2 linked regions of the Homo sapiens genome follow. The protein of the gene in region 1 purifies or fractionates together with the protein of each later gene. This does not show direct contact. Each region holds a gene or a part of one and is shown in the gene's direction. Other genes may lie near its edges.

The links. Proteins that work in one complex are often made in the same cells at the same time.
Region 2: the proteins of FAM78A (region 1) and ADD3 purify together in Homo sapiens (affinity purification with mass spectrometry; 3 studies listed by BioGRID and IntAct, with this or other methods). This does not show direct contact.

The regions. Positions count from the first base shown.
Region 1 is NC_000009.12:131,273,450-131,280,761, reverse strand, and holds the start of FAM78A (protein FAM78A), read left to right. Parts: upstream 1-4,251; 5' UTR 4,252-4,582; coding exon 4,583-4,905; intron 4,906-7,312.
Region 2 is NC_000010.11:110,003,853-110,010,983, forward strand, and holds the start of ADD3 (gamma-adducin), read left to right. Parts: upstream 1-4,131; 5' UTR 4,132-4,447; exon of another isoform or gene 4,448-5,130; intron 5,131-7,131. UniProt on the Homo sapiens protein: Membrane-cytoskeleton-associated protein that promotes the assembly of the spectrin-actin network. Plays a role in actin filament capping. Binds to calmodulin.

The DNA.
Region 1 (7,312 bases):
CAAAGACTTCCCAGGTCCCTGCAGCTTGGCAGGGTCAGTGTTGTTTCTACTTCTGACTTGCTGTGTGGCTTTGGGTTTTCATGACTTCTCTGGGCCAATGTGCCAGGAATTGAGGACCTTGTCCTCCCACTGACAACACTTTGAGCTCCCAAGTGGCCATCCCAGTGTTCACCATCCCGGGTGGGGGATGGGGCCGTGTCTCCCCACCCCTCCTCTTTCTCATTTTTCAGAGTCCAGGGAGCCTGAGGCCTGGGGGAGGGGAAAGGGTCCTGAGAGCAATGGGAGTGCCCTGTGCTGTTGGGCAATGACTCAAACAGATGTCCCCTTCCTCTGCTCTGCAGACACCGGCACTTCACACGCGCGTGGATGCGTCATGAGCCTTCCACATATGCTGAGGCTGCCGTGGGTCTGTGCCCAACACCCACGGAGCTCCGGAAAATGACGAGCAGGAGGAAGGGCTGTGTAGGGAAGCGGCAGGGCCGGAGGGGCCGCGAGCTGGGGAAGCCACCAGAACCCTGGTGGGCGCTTCAGAAGCCAGGGCAGGGAGTGCATGCAGGAGCCGAGCCCATTCACACCCTCTGCCTGGCAGAGCTGCCCCCCAGCTCAAAGCCGGCAAACAGGCCCATGGACTGATGCTTCCTGGTCCCTTCTCCTGCAGACTGAGATGACATCCTGTGCAGGGGTGATGTCAAGGGGGAGCAGGTTAAGGGAGAGGGGTCTTCTACTTTGCAAGTCCTCACCATGTGGGCGCCCACACACCTCTGCTGGTAGGACTTCCTAGTGATCAGTCCCATCCTAGTTCTGAGGGGCTGGCCCTGGCTAGCAAGTGGGGTGTGCTTGGTGAAGAAGCTGAATGTGGGCTTTGGAGCTGGTCAGATCGGAGCTGGCATCCAGCCTCTGAGAAGTCTCTATCCCCTGATCCCTGGGTTTTTGGGTTTCTCTATCTGTGGAGCCCACTGCCTAGGGCTAAGGTCAAGGATAGAAGAGACAGTGCCTGCTCAATGTAACGCCTGACACACAGTGGGTGCTTTACAAACCCAGGCGGAGCCCAGGACGGAGGGGGCGGGGCACTGTCACTCCCAGCTGGCCTTGAAGAGAGCCCACCCCCGGGAAATCACCTCCAGCAGCTTCACTGCTCACAAGGCGGTTCAGGGCTCTGGTCCCTGTCCTTTCCACGAGAGGGACGTGCAGCTCTGGCCCTGTTCATTGAGCACTTGAACTTGTCACCTCATTTCCAGGATAGCATTCCTACCCTCACAGAGCACCCTGGCCAGGCTGTCGGGGTGATGAGAGTCGGGAAATGAAACAGACATCTCAAAAGTGAATATCGTCCCTACATATAAACTGGGTAGTGCAGTAATTATCTGATGGCACAAGAGGTGCAGAAGGCCCTGTGACTGTCAGAGGGACAGAAGGTTTTGTGGGGGCCATTAGTTCATGGAAGGGAGAGGCCATTTCACATGGTGAAGAGGCCAGAGAAGACTTCTTCCTGGAAATGGACATTTATGTAGAGCCCTGATGTAATCTGTGTGCTGTCTGGGGTTCTACTGTGTCCAACAGGCCAAGGGGGCCATCTCTGTGGCCCTGCCTTGGCCCGAGTCAGTGGGACTAGGAATAAGCCACCTACTAGCTGAACTGGAAAGGGACCACCTCCTCATTAGCTGGGGATACGGGCCATAGCAGTGCTGGGGTGAGGGTGTGGCTGGGTGAGAGGCGGAGGCCACCCTAGCCAGCCACTTCCTGCTCCATGGCTGAGCCGGTGCTGCTGTGAGATGTCCTGGTTGTTAACCCCTCAAAGGAGAGATCCAAGAGTGGCCAGCCCCTCGGTCCCTCCAGCCCTGCCCTCACACACTCAGCGTGCTCCGGCTCTGGGACTGGCTGGAAGCACCTGCCCTGTGCCGGCTGTGGGCACCTGTGGAAGTCAGAGTCATGGGGATGGGGTGGGGACGAAGAGCGTGGCTTTAATGTAGCTGCCAGATGTACTTATGTCACAAATTGCTTGGGCTTTCCCTACGGCTGGCTGGAAGGTAGGGGTGGGGTTCATAGCTCTCCCATGGCTGTACAGCCTCATGCTCCTTTTGAGCCCCTGCACTGGGACCCCTGCGGGGGGACGGGGGGAAGGACCTTGGGCAAATCCCCTAGCCTCTCAGCTCTGGGTGCCTGCTCTGTGAAGTGCACATCATCAGTCTCCCTCCACAGGGAGGCCGATGGTGGCTGAAATGATGCTCTGTACAGCGCTCATCACACAGCCGGGGTCCAACAGGCAGCCAGCAGACCTGCTCGAGGGGACCCACCTCTCCCCAAACTGCTCTCCCCTCCCCGCGACCTTCCCAGCCTTGGAGCCTACAAAGCCCCCGCGCTGTCTCCACCAAGCCACTGTCTCCCTGCGGTCAGGAACCCCAGGGCAAGGGAGCCCTTCTGCGGGTGCTCCGAACCCCAGAAAGCCTCTGGTCCATAGAGTTCAAAGGGCACTGGGAGCAGCCCACCTGGCCCCGAGACAGCAGCGGAACTACACTACCCAGAATTCCCGGGGCTGGCCAAAAAGGAAATGTCGTTTGTTCAAGGAGAGGCTCAGCTCCCCGAGCAGCTGCAGAGACAGGGAGCGAGGGGGAGCGAGGGATTACCAGGGGGAGGGCGGGCTGTGTGCGGGGAGCGAGGGTGGAGAGCCAGGCGGGCGGGGAGGAGGAGGCGGCGCCCGCCCGCCGCCGCCGCCGCCGCCTGCGGACCTGCATCCCCGCGGGGCCGGCGAGCGGGCGGCGGTCCCTGCGTGCGCCGGCTGCGCTCGGCCGGCGGCGGCGGCGAGCGGACGCGGGGGCCGGGCCGGCGCAGGGGCCGAGTTTCTGCAAAGTTTGACCCGGTTGCCTTTCCGATGCTGCAGCAGAGCGAGGCAGCGCGGGGCGCGCCAGGCGGCAGCGGCGCGGCGGCGGGGCTGAGCGGCGACAGCGCGCTCACAATGATCATAAAATAAAGGAGGCGCGCGGGGTGGGGGCGAGAGAGCCCCGAGCCTCAGCCCTCCGCCCCCGGCCGCCCCCCCGAAGCCCCAAGCCGGGAGGAGGGTGGGGGCCGGGGGCGCCCACGCCGGCCCCAGACTCCAGTAGAGCCAAGGGACAGTGCCCGGGGAAGGGGGTGGGGGCGCCCCAAGAACGTGCCCGCGGCCGGGTCAGGGGCGTCCGGAGAGCGGCTGCCCGGGCCAGCGGAGTGGCCCCCGGGGCAGGTGAGTCGGCGGCGCCGCCCGAGTGGGGGCGTGCGCGCCAAAGTTCCCCGGCAGCGGCGAGCGCGCCCGACGCGTGGGGACCCGGGGCTGCTCGCGGCTGGAGAGGGGCGACAGAGGCGCTTGACGCGGCGGAGCGGGGGCACTATGCCCTCCGAGGGCCGAGGGACCCCAGCCGGGAAAGGGGTGCCCGCCGGATCCGACGGCACTGGTGGGTGGCCCTGCGCCCAGGGAGCCGGAGGGACCGGGGTGGGGAAGGGGCACCTGGCGCTGGCGGCGCGGCGGTGGGGACAGAGCAGGGCAAGTGCTCGCCGCCCCCTGCAGCGGCAGCCGCTCGCCCCCCACCCCGCCCGTCCGGGACGGTATCAGCGGAGATGTCACGGGCGGCTATTATTCGCTGGTGCGCGCGGTCGTGCGGCCGCCACTGACGGGGCGGGCGCGGGGGGCGGGGGCCACCGCCTCCGGGGAGACCGCCCAGAGCTGCGCCGTCAGCTCCGCAGCCCGCGCCCAGCGCACACGCGTCGCCGCCCCCGCGCGCCCCCCGCAGCAAAGTTCGGCTTAACTTTGAGGCTGGCCTTGACGCGCTGTCCCTTCCACCTCCCACCAGGTCCTCGGCGGCCGCGGCGAAGCAGGCGGCGGCGGCCGGAGCGCAGCCCCGGGACCCTGCACGGCGGCCGGCAGCGACAGCGGCGAAGGGACGCGGCGCCCCTGCGTGGGGACGTCCGGCCCGCGCCCGCGAGTGGGCGCCGACGGGGACCCGCGCCGCGCTCCCCCGTCACCGGCGAGCGGCCGGAGCCCTGAGCTCGCCTCCTGGAAGCCGCGGGTCGGCGCTCGCCCCGAGGGCGCCGGGACCTCGGCCGGGTGAACACAAACTGCTCTGCAATTGATTCGACCGCGCCGGGCGGGTGCGGGTGCGGGGCCCGGAGGGAGCGCGTGCGGAAGGCCGGAGGGCAGGAAGTCAGGCTTCTGCCGCGAGGGTGGCGCGGCCGCGCGGGGACAGAGCCTTCCTTATTTATGAGTCTGCCGGCGCTCGCCTGCTTCCTCCGAAGACTTCAGGGAGAGTCTGCGAGCTGCCGTCCCCGCGTGTGAGGCACAGAAGGGCTGGATGTCAGAACCGCATAATTATTCATTAAACTACAAACTTTTTTTAACCCAAAGAATATCGGTGATTTTTGTCCACTGCGAGGAGAAGAAGAGAGAGCCCAGGGCTCATGAAATGCAGCAGAATCCTTATTTATAAACAGGCCGCGGTAGTGATATATGCAACCCCAGTCTACTCAGTGAGTTTTCTATCCTATGGATATCGGTCTTGAGAGTTGAGATTGGAGAGCAGCGCCGTCTGTACTGGGTCCTGCAGCCTCTGTCCTTTCAATGCCTGGTTTTTTCTGTGACTGCTGGCCTTCCCTGGAGATCAGAGCGCTCCTGTATGCCATGGGCTGTATTCAGAGCATCGGAGGCAAAGCCAGAGTCTTCCGGGAAGGGATCACGGTGATTGATGTGAAAGCCTCCATCGACCCCGTCCCCACTAGCATCGATGAGTCCTCCAGCGTGGTGCTCCGCTACCGGACACCCCACTTCCGGGCCTCGGCCCAGGTGGTCATGCCGCCCATCCCCAAGAAGGAGACTTGGGTAGTTGGCTGGATCCAGGCGTGCAGCCACATGGAGTTCTACAACCAGTACGGCGAGCAGGGCATGTGAGTACGGCCGAGAGCCAGCTCTGGGAACTGCTAGGGATGGCCGAGCTTGGAGGCCTGGTGGGGGGCCGCGGATAGGGGGAAGGTGGAGATACCATGAAGACAGGACGGAGGCCAGAGGGAAGCTTTAGGCAGGTATGCAGGTGGCCTCATTGGCCCGGTGGCTCCCTGAAAAGTTTGCCTGTGGATCCAGATTGGAGTCACGGTCCTGCAATCTACCCTGCCACTGTTCCCCCCGGGTTCCTGTGTCCTTCCCTGCAAGATGCCGAGAAAGCAGAGAGACATTACTCCCAGTGTTTCCTGGCAGAGCAAGTGTGCCGTCCGCCTGAGGAGTGTCTGTGCCATCAGGGGTCACCAGAGAGGCTGCAGGGCTGCCCTCCAGGCCTCTGGCCCTGTGCGGGCCCATGGCAGACATTCAGGCACTCTGCAACTCCCAGACCGGTGTGTTCAGGGCTTTGCGATTGGGCCTCAATTATCTTTCTGGCTTTTACCAGTGTATGCCAGGAGCTGGGGGAGTGCTTCCCCGTTCCAAACGGCACTGTGTTTGAGAGCACAGTTAGTTTTAGAAGCCCGATTTCTTCACAGTGTATCGCTTTCTGTCTCCAAGGCAGAAGACCGCTTTATGCAGACAAGTCCAGTGTCCCTCTGGCGAGGCCCTAACAGGAACAGCAAAGAGGAGCCTCTCCTCTGCAGCCCCAAAGCCCGGTCTCCAGAGTGTGCCTAGGGTATTGGGGGTCCCGGTGAGGACCCTGGGACCCTGGGGCTCCTTTCCTGGCCTGCTTCCTGACCCCAGAGAAGGCCGTCCCCAGGGTGAAAAGAGCTGCATTTAGGCAGAGTTGGGAGAGTGACTTAATCTGAAGGTTCACCCTAAGACAGGGATGGTGAAAATAGCTGTTTCTGAGCGTAAGGACCCTTTGGAGAGAGCTAGGCAGGCCCCGGCGGGCAGCCCACCCATGCGGCCCCGTGACTGGCCGCTGACACTCCCAGAACCTCTCTCAGTGTCTACCCTGTGGCCCCGTGACTGGCCGCTGACACTCCCAGAGCCTCTCTCAGTGTCTACCCTGTGCAGCTTCACGTCCCCGTTTTGCAAGTGGGGAAAAGAGGAGAATTTCCCCAGGAGCTGGAACTTATCACAGATTTAAGAATCTCATGGGCCACCTGTAAATGAGAGGGGTGGAGGATGGCGGGACACCAAGTCTGGTGGCTTCTCTACTTAATGACTCCAAAGTTCTAAAGGAAACATGAGGATCACAGTAACCCTTAAGTCCAGCGTGTGACAGTGACTGTCCCAAAGAGGTACATGGGGGGCACATCTAGAGGCTCTCACCGGCCCTCTCCACCAGCCTGATTTCTGTGCCAACCCCTTTGTGTCTCAAGAGCAGCTAGTAATCCAGTTCGGGGGAGGGGGTGCTGCCTTTCTGTTCTAAGCAGGGAAACATGATTCTTAGTTATGCAGTGAGGACCTTTTCTAAGAACGCTTAAGCCCAGAAACCTCCTCGGGCTTTGAAGGCATCGGGACAGTTGTAGAAACAAAAGTTTTCCTCGGGGTTTTGGGCTAAGCCTAGTTTCTTCCCTGGAAGGGGTAAGGAAGCCAGTGGGTTCTTCTGAACTTGGAAAGACATGAGCACTCACGGGACTGGATGCTAATGTGGTTGGTGCAACGTGTGGTGGGGAGGCCACAGGCCTGACCCAAGGTACAGACTCCAAGCCTCAGCTTCCCCATCTGTGCACATGGGCTTCCGATGTCTTGTCTAAGACTTGTTCTCCATCTGGTGACCCTGAGTAGGTGTGGGTGATGTGGCTGGAGCTAGGCCTGAGACTGGGACCTGAGACAACCCTGCCCTCCCTGTCGCAGTCCTGGCTTCCTGGTTGGAAGAGCCTCATGCCTTCTTAGGCAGATCTGGGCGGGAGGCCAGGTTCTGCCACTCTCCAGGATGTGGCCCTAGGCAAGTCCCTTTACTGCTCTGACCCTCAGTTTACACATCTGCAAACTGGGGCTGGCAAGAACCCCTTCCCCATGGCTTATTGTGAGAATCACTCAAGCTAACCAAATTCGCCATGCAGTCAGCCCTGCGCCAAGCTGGTGGTGAATACTTACCGCAGGCAGTAATGGGATGGGGATCATCCTTAGCGGTGTTGTGATTGTTACTGTTATTCTATCAGATGTGAGTGGCTAAAACTACAGAATTAGGACAGATGTCAGCCACACCGTGTAGTGAATTTTCTCCCCAGGCCGAGTCTTTCTCTGTCACGTAGGGCCCACTTCCTGAGTTTAAAACTTTTTAAAGCAGTGTAAGGCATGAAGAACTTGCGTTTTAAAGTGGCTCCAGGCCATTTTCCTTGTTCTCTCTCTGCCCCTGATGTTTCTCTTTGCTCCCTCTCGCTCTCGGGACTCCTCTTTTGCTGC
Region 2 (7,131 bases), on another chromosome or scaffold:
AAAGGGAGGTAGAGAATGGAGTCAGTTGTTTTGGACAATGCAAATTAAAAACAAACAAAAACACTTTGTAGTCAGTTTCTGGATATGTTGGGAGCAATTCATTCATTAAATCGTGTATTCATTTTTTAAAGTATCCGTTAAGTGCCTTTATATAAGAGACTGTGCTGAGCACTTTGGGAAGAGGTAAAGAAATGCATTCAATTTGCGGGGAGGGGATGTGGGGGAATGCTTTGAATTATACAAATAATCACCATTTTATTCATTGTTCAATACTACCTGGTAGATGAAATAAAAAGCCCTCCTTGCAGAGAAGCAAGGAAAACAAAAACAGATGAAGGAAACTGGGCAACTAATTTCTTTTAATTCTCTCCCTGTAGGAGGCATTAAAAAAAAAAATTGAGGCCGGGTGCGGTGGCTCACGCCTGTAATCCCAGCACTTTGGGAGGCCGAGACAGGCGGATCACAAGGTCAGGAGATCGAGACCATCCTGGCTAACACTGTGAAACCCTGTCTCTACTAAAAATACATAAAATTAGCTGGGTGTGGTGGCATGCGCCTGTAGTCCCAGGCTGAGGCAGGAGAATCGCCTGAACCTGGCAGGCAGAGATTGCAGTGAGTCGACTAATTTTTGTATTTTTAGTAGAGACAGGGTTTCACCATGTTGGCCAGGATGGTCTTGATCTCTTGACCTCGTGACCTGCCTGCCTCAGCCTCCCAAAGTGCTGGGATTACAGGCATGAGCCACCATGACCGGCCAGACCCTGGGAAATTTCAATCCAACTTCCTCACTTTACAAAATAGGGAACTAAGAACCAAATAAGGTTATTTACTTGTTCAAGATCACACAGGTACATCATTAACAAAAGCTGTGCAAAGAAAATTAAAGGCAGAATATTTCCTTTATTTCTTTCTATTCATATTTTGAGATCACACCTCTTCATTTACTTATAGAGAAAAAAACATAACTGGTAAGTGCTTAAATCAAGTAATATAAAGATAAAATGTAAGGTTATAATGCAGATTCTCAGGTGGACACGACACATTTTAATAGTGTAAATAGCAGATTCATATGCACTTAGAGTCAGTCAATCCACTTGTGTTTCTTAATTTTGCTGACCTTTGAATTGCCACTGAAATAGCATTAATACTGTGCTATTATCCAAAAATTATTTTAGATATATTTTGTTTTTTCTATACATAATACTGTAATTTTATTTTATTTTTTTTTGAGATGGAGTCTTGCTCTGTCACCCAGGCTGGAGTGCAGTGGCGCGATCTTGGCTCACTGCAAGCTCCGCCTCCCGGGTTCAAGCAATTCTCTGCCTCAGCCTCCTAAGTAGCTGGGATTACAGGCGCCTGCCACCACGCCCGGCTAATTTTTGTATTTTTAGTAGAGACGGGATTTCACCATCTTGGCCAGGCTGGTCTTGAACTCCTGACCTCGTGATCTACCTGCCTCAGCCTCCCAAAGTGCTGGGATTACAGGCGTGAGCCACCACGCCCGGCAATATTGTGATTTTTTATATCACATGAGCACACATTGAAACCTGTCAACAATATATTTTCTAATACTGGTATTCACTGAAGTTCCAAGTATGCTTATAGGTAGGACTTGAATCCATTGCTTCTAGTCACATAAACGAGTTTTAATTCATTTTTCTTTTTATTCTTATATTAAATACTAAATAGCTTTCCTTTATATAGTTATTATTTTAGTACGATGTTGAATATTAGCACAAATATTAAATTAAATTAAATATTAGCACAAATTACTAATCAGTTTCAAGGCATACAACTTTATTTTGCCATTACCCCAATGTTTGAAATTAGCAGGGCTCTTTAAAACTGGTGCTTCTAGCATTTCATTGACTTACACTAAAATCATTGCCTCCATTCCTCAACCACCCAGTTAATTTTAACCTTGACCTCCCACAGCTGTACTCATTTACTCAGTCCACAAAACTCCCTGATTCCATCCTCTCTGCCTCTTATGAAGCAATACTAGAGAGGAAAAACAAAACCCATTCCTTTAAGAAAGATTCCGCCTCCTCTCATAAGCAAGCGCCTAATGGTAATTGTAGAGTTTACTAAGTCAAACACTTACTACTCAGCATTGAGAGAAGCTGCTGCTGCTAATGCTGCTGCTGCTGCTGCCGCCGCCGCCGCTGCTGCTGCTGCTGTTGGTCTGAGGCTGCAGTAGGTTTCTGTGCAGCATTGCAGAATCCACACCTAGAGAACAGAAGACACAGACACGTACGTCTACTACCCTTGTTAGAAGGAAGCTTTGGATCTTCGGTGGGTAAGGAGATCTATCTAGCTATTTTGTCCAGAAACTGTGAGAAAAGGAATGATCATGGAAAAGACTGTTCATCAGACATGCTTAAAATGGATTATGTTAATTTGTCTTCCTTTGGTGGTGGTGGGGGTGTCCAGATTTGCGACTAGCAAAATATAGTGAGGACTATATTCTGATAGGTGCCCTTAGGATACTTTTTTTGCTATTCATAAAAAGGCTAACCTTGATGCATGCAAAGCTTTTCATTTTTTTGCTTTTTAAATGCAAGAAAATATCCAGCCACTCCCAATATCTCTCTCAAATACTGCAGATATTTTTAAATACCAAATAAAATGTCAGGCTGAGCATTTTCTAAACAATTTTCTTCCTCAAACTAGGCAGCCTTCCCCACGATTCGTTAAGAGTATTTAAAAATAATAAGGCATGGTTGGATTTTTTGAGCAAATGGGAGATGGTGGTAGACTAAAATTTCTACAGCCTTAGTCCAGTGGAGAGAGAAAACGATAAATGCATCACAGTTTGTGTCAAGACAAGATTCATTTTCCACACTTCATATGTGGGAAGAGGAAACTACATTTTAATTAGCACATTTTTAGGGAGGAGGGGGGGGATGAAGATGAGGCGGATGGCGTGAGGTATTTGAGGGGGACGAGTCTGCAGATGAGGAAAGGAAATGAAGTGGATTGTCGCCAGTGCCTTGGAAACGAAGGGGGATAAGGGTGGGGAACGAAGTTTGTTGTGTGTGTTAGGGTGGGGTTGGCCCAAGGGACCATGAATCATTAGAATGGCGCTCGGAGGGGTGTGCTTGCAAGTGTACTGGTGCAGGAGGGACGTGGAAGTCGTGGGTGGCAGAGAAAAGTGTGCACCGCTGGGAGGTCTATTTCAAGAATAGGTTGGGATGAGAAACATGTCTGGGCGAGGGGGGTGGGAGGCCCGGTGTCACCTGTGGATGGATCCACAGCCCTGCAATTGCGTGTTGCAAAGTTTGCCCGGCCCCGCATTCATTTTGAAGGTTCTTGGCGATGCCTCGACTTTTCGCCTCAAAGAAGTGAGCTCTCATAAGGTTCAGAGGCCGGGAGCCAAAGCGGGAGTGAAGACTCTCGAGGGGTCCAAATGAAGCAGAAGCGAGAGCCCCTGTCCTCCCCCTATGTGGAGGTGAAGCAGGGGTTGTGGGGACTAGGCGCCCGCGAAGGCAGCTGTGCTGAGAGCAAAGTCCAGGCCCCACGGGGGGCGTGCGGAGGTTGAACCTTTGCAGTGGCCTCCTACAGCCCCAGCAGCCAGCGTGGGCGGCCGAGGCTGACTCAAAGCGGCGGCTCAGCCTCGGGAGTAGGAGTAGGGGGCTCGCTCATTTAGGGCGGGAGACATTTCCGAGGCGCCCCTCCTCCCCTTCGCGGTCGGGTTTCTATCGGGGTCGTTTCCCCCTCTGGCCCTCCGGGGACGCCGCGGATTCGAGCTGCACAGTCAGAAGAGGACGTTGAAAAGGCGCCAGGCAGCCGCCCCGAACCAGGCCCTCCCGGCTGCCGGGCCTGCAGGCCCCCACCGCTGCGGCTTCACGGACTTAGAGCTTGAGGGCGCGGAGGGGGCTGCGGGGGCGGGACCAGGACTCCCGAGGGGCGCTCGGGGCGGGGCCAGAGAGAGCTCGGGGCTGCCAGAGGCGAGGTCTTGAGGAGGCGGGGCCGGGAGGCTTCGGAGCCCAAGAGGCGGGGCCAGAGGCGTAGGGGGCTGCGAGGGGCGGACCTTGGGGGCGTGACCGGGGGGGGCGCTTGGGGACCTAGGGGCGGGGCGTTAGGGGGCGGGACCAAGGGACGCTCGAGGGGCGCTCGGCTAGTCCCGCCAGAGCGCGAGCCGCCAGCCCGTAACGGTCGCCAGTGTGAGGGGCGGGAGGGAAAGAAGAGGGGTTTAAATTAGATTTTTTAAAACACAGAGCAAGCGCCAGAGGCGTCGGCATCCCAGGTGTCGCCGCTTCCTGCTGCACAGGGCTCGGCGTACAGGTCCCTCCCTCCTCAAGCCCCCTCCCCTTCTCCCGCCCTACCCTCTGGGGCTCTGCGGCGCTTAAGAGGCGGCCGCAGCGGCGGATCCGGCGGCTGCTGCAGCCCGGGCGGCTGCCGAGAAGGAGGGAGGGGAAACACAAAGCCGGCTACGCGCTGCGAGGTAATCTTGCGGGGAGAGGACGCGCCGTCGTCCCGCCTCTCTTCCGGGCCGGGACGCGGGCACCCGCGCGGGGGCTAGCACTGGGGACGCTACTGGGGGTCGCGCGGGGGTAGGGAGCGGCGGCTGGCGGGGCCAAGGGGACTTCTCATTGGCTGTCCCTGCGGCCTCAGGTGAACCCTTTTCCGGGGCGGGAGTGGGGACCACGGCCAGGCCAGAGGGGAGCGTACCTGCGGGGGAGGGTCCGGGGGTGGCGGTGCACGGCCTGCGGCGCCGCCGGGTGGGCCCGACGCTTCGCGCGTCTGCTGGTTTTCCCTAGGAAGGCGGGGAGTACCAAAATCAGTTACTGGCTGAAGCTTAGGTGACCCCGGGGACCTTAAGCCCTGAAGGTGCGCTCCAGGGGAGTGAGAGGTTCCTGCGCTTAGAAAAGGTGGAGGAAAGGGAGCGAATGTTGGTTTTAGTTGTTTTTCTCCTCATTTAAAAAAAATTTTTTTTGTTACAAGTTGAAAGTGTTCAGTCACCTTTCTCCTATAATCCGCTTCCCCACCCCCCAACACAGACACACACAAACACACCGCCCCTACAAACGTATACATGTTAGGTTGAGCTTCCTGCTAGGGGTGACAAGCGAAGTTGGCAGCAGGTCTGGTGTGCTGGTGTTTGGGGCACGTCCAGCCTCTTTGGAGGTAGGCTATTATAGCTTAGGCAAGACCACAGACAGGTAGCATAATCTGGGCCTCTTTTAAAATGGCAAGAACGGCTTCAGGTGAACTTTTTTGTTGCAGAGATTTAATTGCAAGTAGGTGCCGGTTGAAAATGGGAGCGCAAGGAAAACCACTAATTTCCTTGGCACATGTGCTGTTGCAATTAACCTGGTAGAGTGTTAAGGAATTTAACTTAGCCAAGAGGCTTTGAGGGAGGATTATATGCAAGTTTGGGGAAGGAATTGATAAGATTCTGGGGTATGGGACTAGCTACATACACGTGCGTGCAAGTTTACGTTAAATTATGTAGCATTTTAGATTTAGCAGTATTAAATGGTTGCTTTTCTTGGAATGGCTTCTGACTACATAGTGCAGGGTACGTTCCTAATTTTGGCTTTAGAAGACTCCTAGTGAGAGTGTTTTTAAAGATTGAAAAAATAAGAGTACAGTGCAATTTGTCGTTTTCAAGTTAAATACTTGACTGTTAAAAATATTTGTGTAATTAAGTTATGGGACCAACCCATTTATAGGGTTAAGTTACTTAACCCTATAAATAACTGGAACATTATAAATGGAGCATTTGTAGAAAGTTTTTATATCGAAGTCTCCATTATATTGTACTTGCATTATAACTTATTTTCCTTTGCTTAAATGGAGCAGATTAACTTTATGGAAGGAGGACCAGGATAAAATAAAGGCAGCTACATTTAACTCTTCATCTTTCTGAAGAGTTCAGTCTGTGATAACACTTAAGGTGCCCAGAAGTGCTGGCATGTTGGTAATAGTTTTTAAAGAAGAAACGGGTGTATCTATTTTGAATGTTAAACATAATTTGAAGGAGTTCTTGAGATAGTTGGTTATGAGACATTCAATGTATTGCTACATTTTACATATATGATATCAGGAAATGTTTGGTGAACATTTGACATAGTTGATCATATGACACTTGGGAAATATTTTGCATGATAGAAGGATAGTATTTTCGTAATGTAAGTTTCAAGCATTGACTGAAAGGGAGAAAATTACACACTTTGCTGTCTCACCCCTTTCTTCAATATTATGCTGGCATGAATGTGAATTCTGCCTAATTATGTTTAAAGTGTAGATCTGGCCTTTGTAAAACCAGAATGTCTTTTGAGACCAAGAGAACATAACATCAGCAACAGCCCAACTCCTACACACAATCCTAAAACCTAGATACAGGGTGGTGCCCAACTTCTGAGGTTTTGAGGCTTCCTGAAGTAGGCCTATCATGTCTGAGTGCTTTTGTCACATGTAAGCCTACAGGTGGTTAGCTGGTTAATCTCTCCCATTTCAAAGCAGTTGGTTAGCAGTACTGGGTGGCATGTATGCATGTCATCAGAGTATAAGAAGTGTTTGAGGGAAGAAATCACATAAAAGCATAGAAACCTGGCTCTGAACAAACTGTGTAGCGTGTTGGGGAACAGTCACATCAGAACTTTAGCTTAACCGAGTTGTTATATGTAAAGTGCTTAGAATGGGGTTTGTATTCAGTGCTTTTTGTGTTTATCATTATCAGTATGTAAAGTGACATATCTTTTTGAAGGCTGTTAGGTCATGCTACCCAGCATGTGAAGACTCAGCAAATATTTGTAATAGCCAATATTTATTTGCCTAACCTCTGTGCCAGGCACTAAGAGTTTTATATGATTTAATTTACTTAGTCCTTCCAACAACCCAGTGGCTAAACAGAGGCATGGAGAGGTTAAGTATCTTCCCAAGGTGACACAGGTTGGTTCTGAAGCCAGAGTCTGGCCCAAGAGTGAGCCCATGTAACCACTGCCCCTTGTTGCTATTGAGCTCATGGTAATTACTGCAAACCAGTGAGAGGTCTTCATAGTATTCCCACGACTATCAGGTGCACATGTCTTGTTTAACCACATCCTCTGGTATTAATACCACCAAGTTATGCTTAAATCTAAGGAGTGGTGGTTAATCCGCATTAAATACAGTCACCTTTTG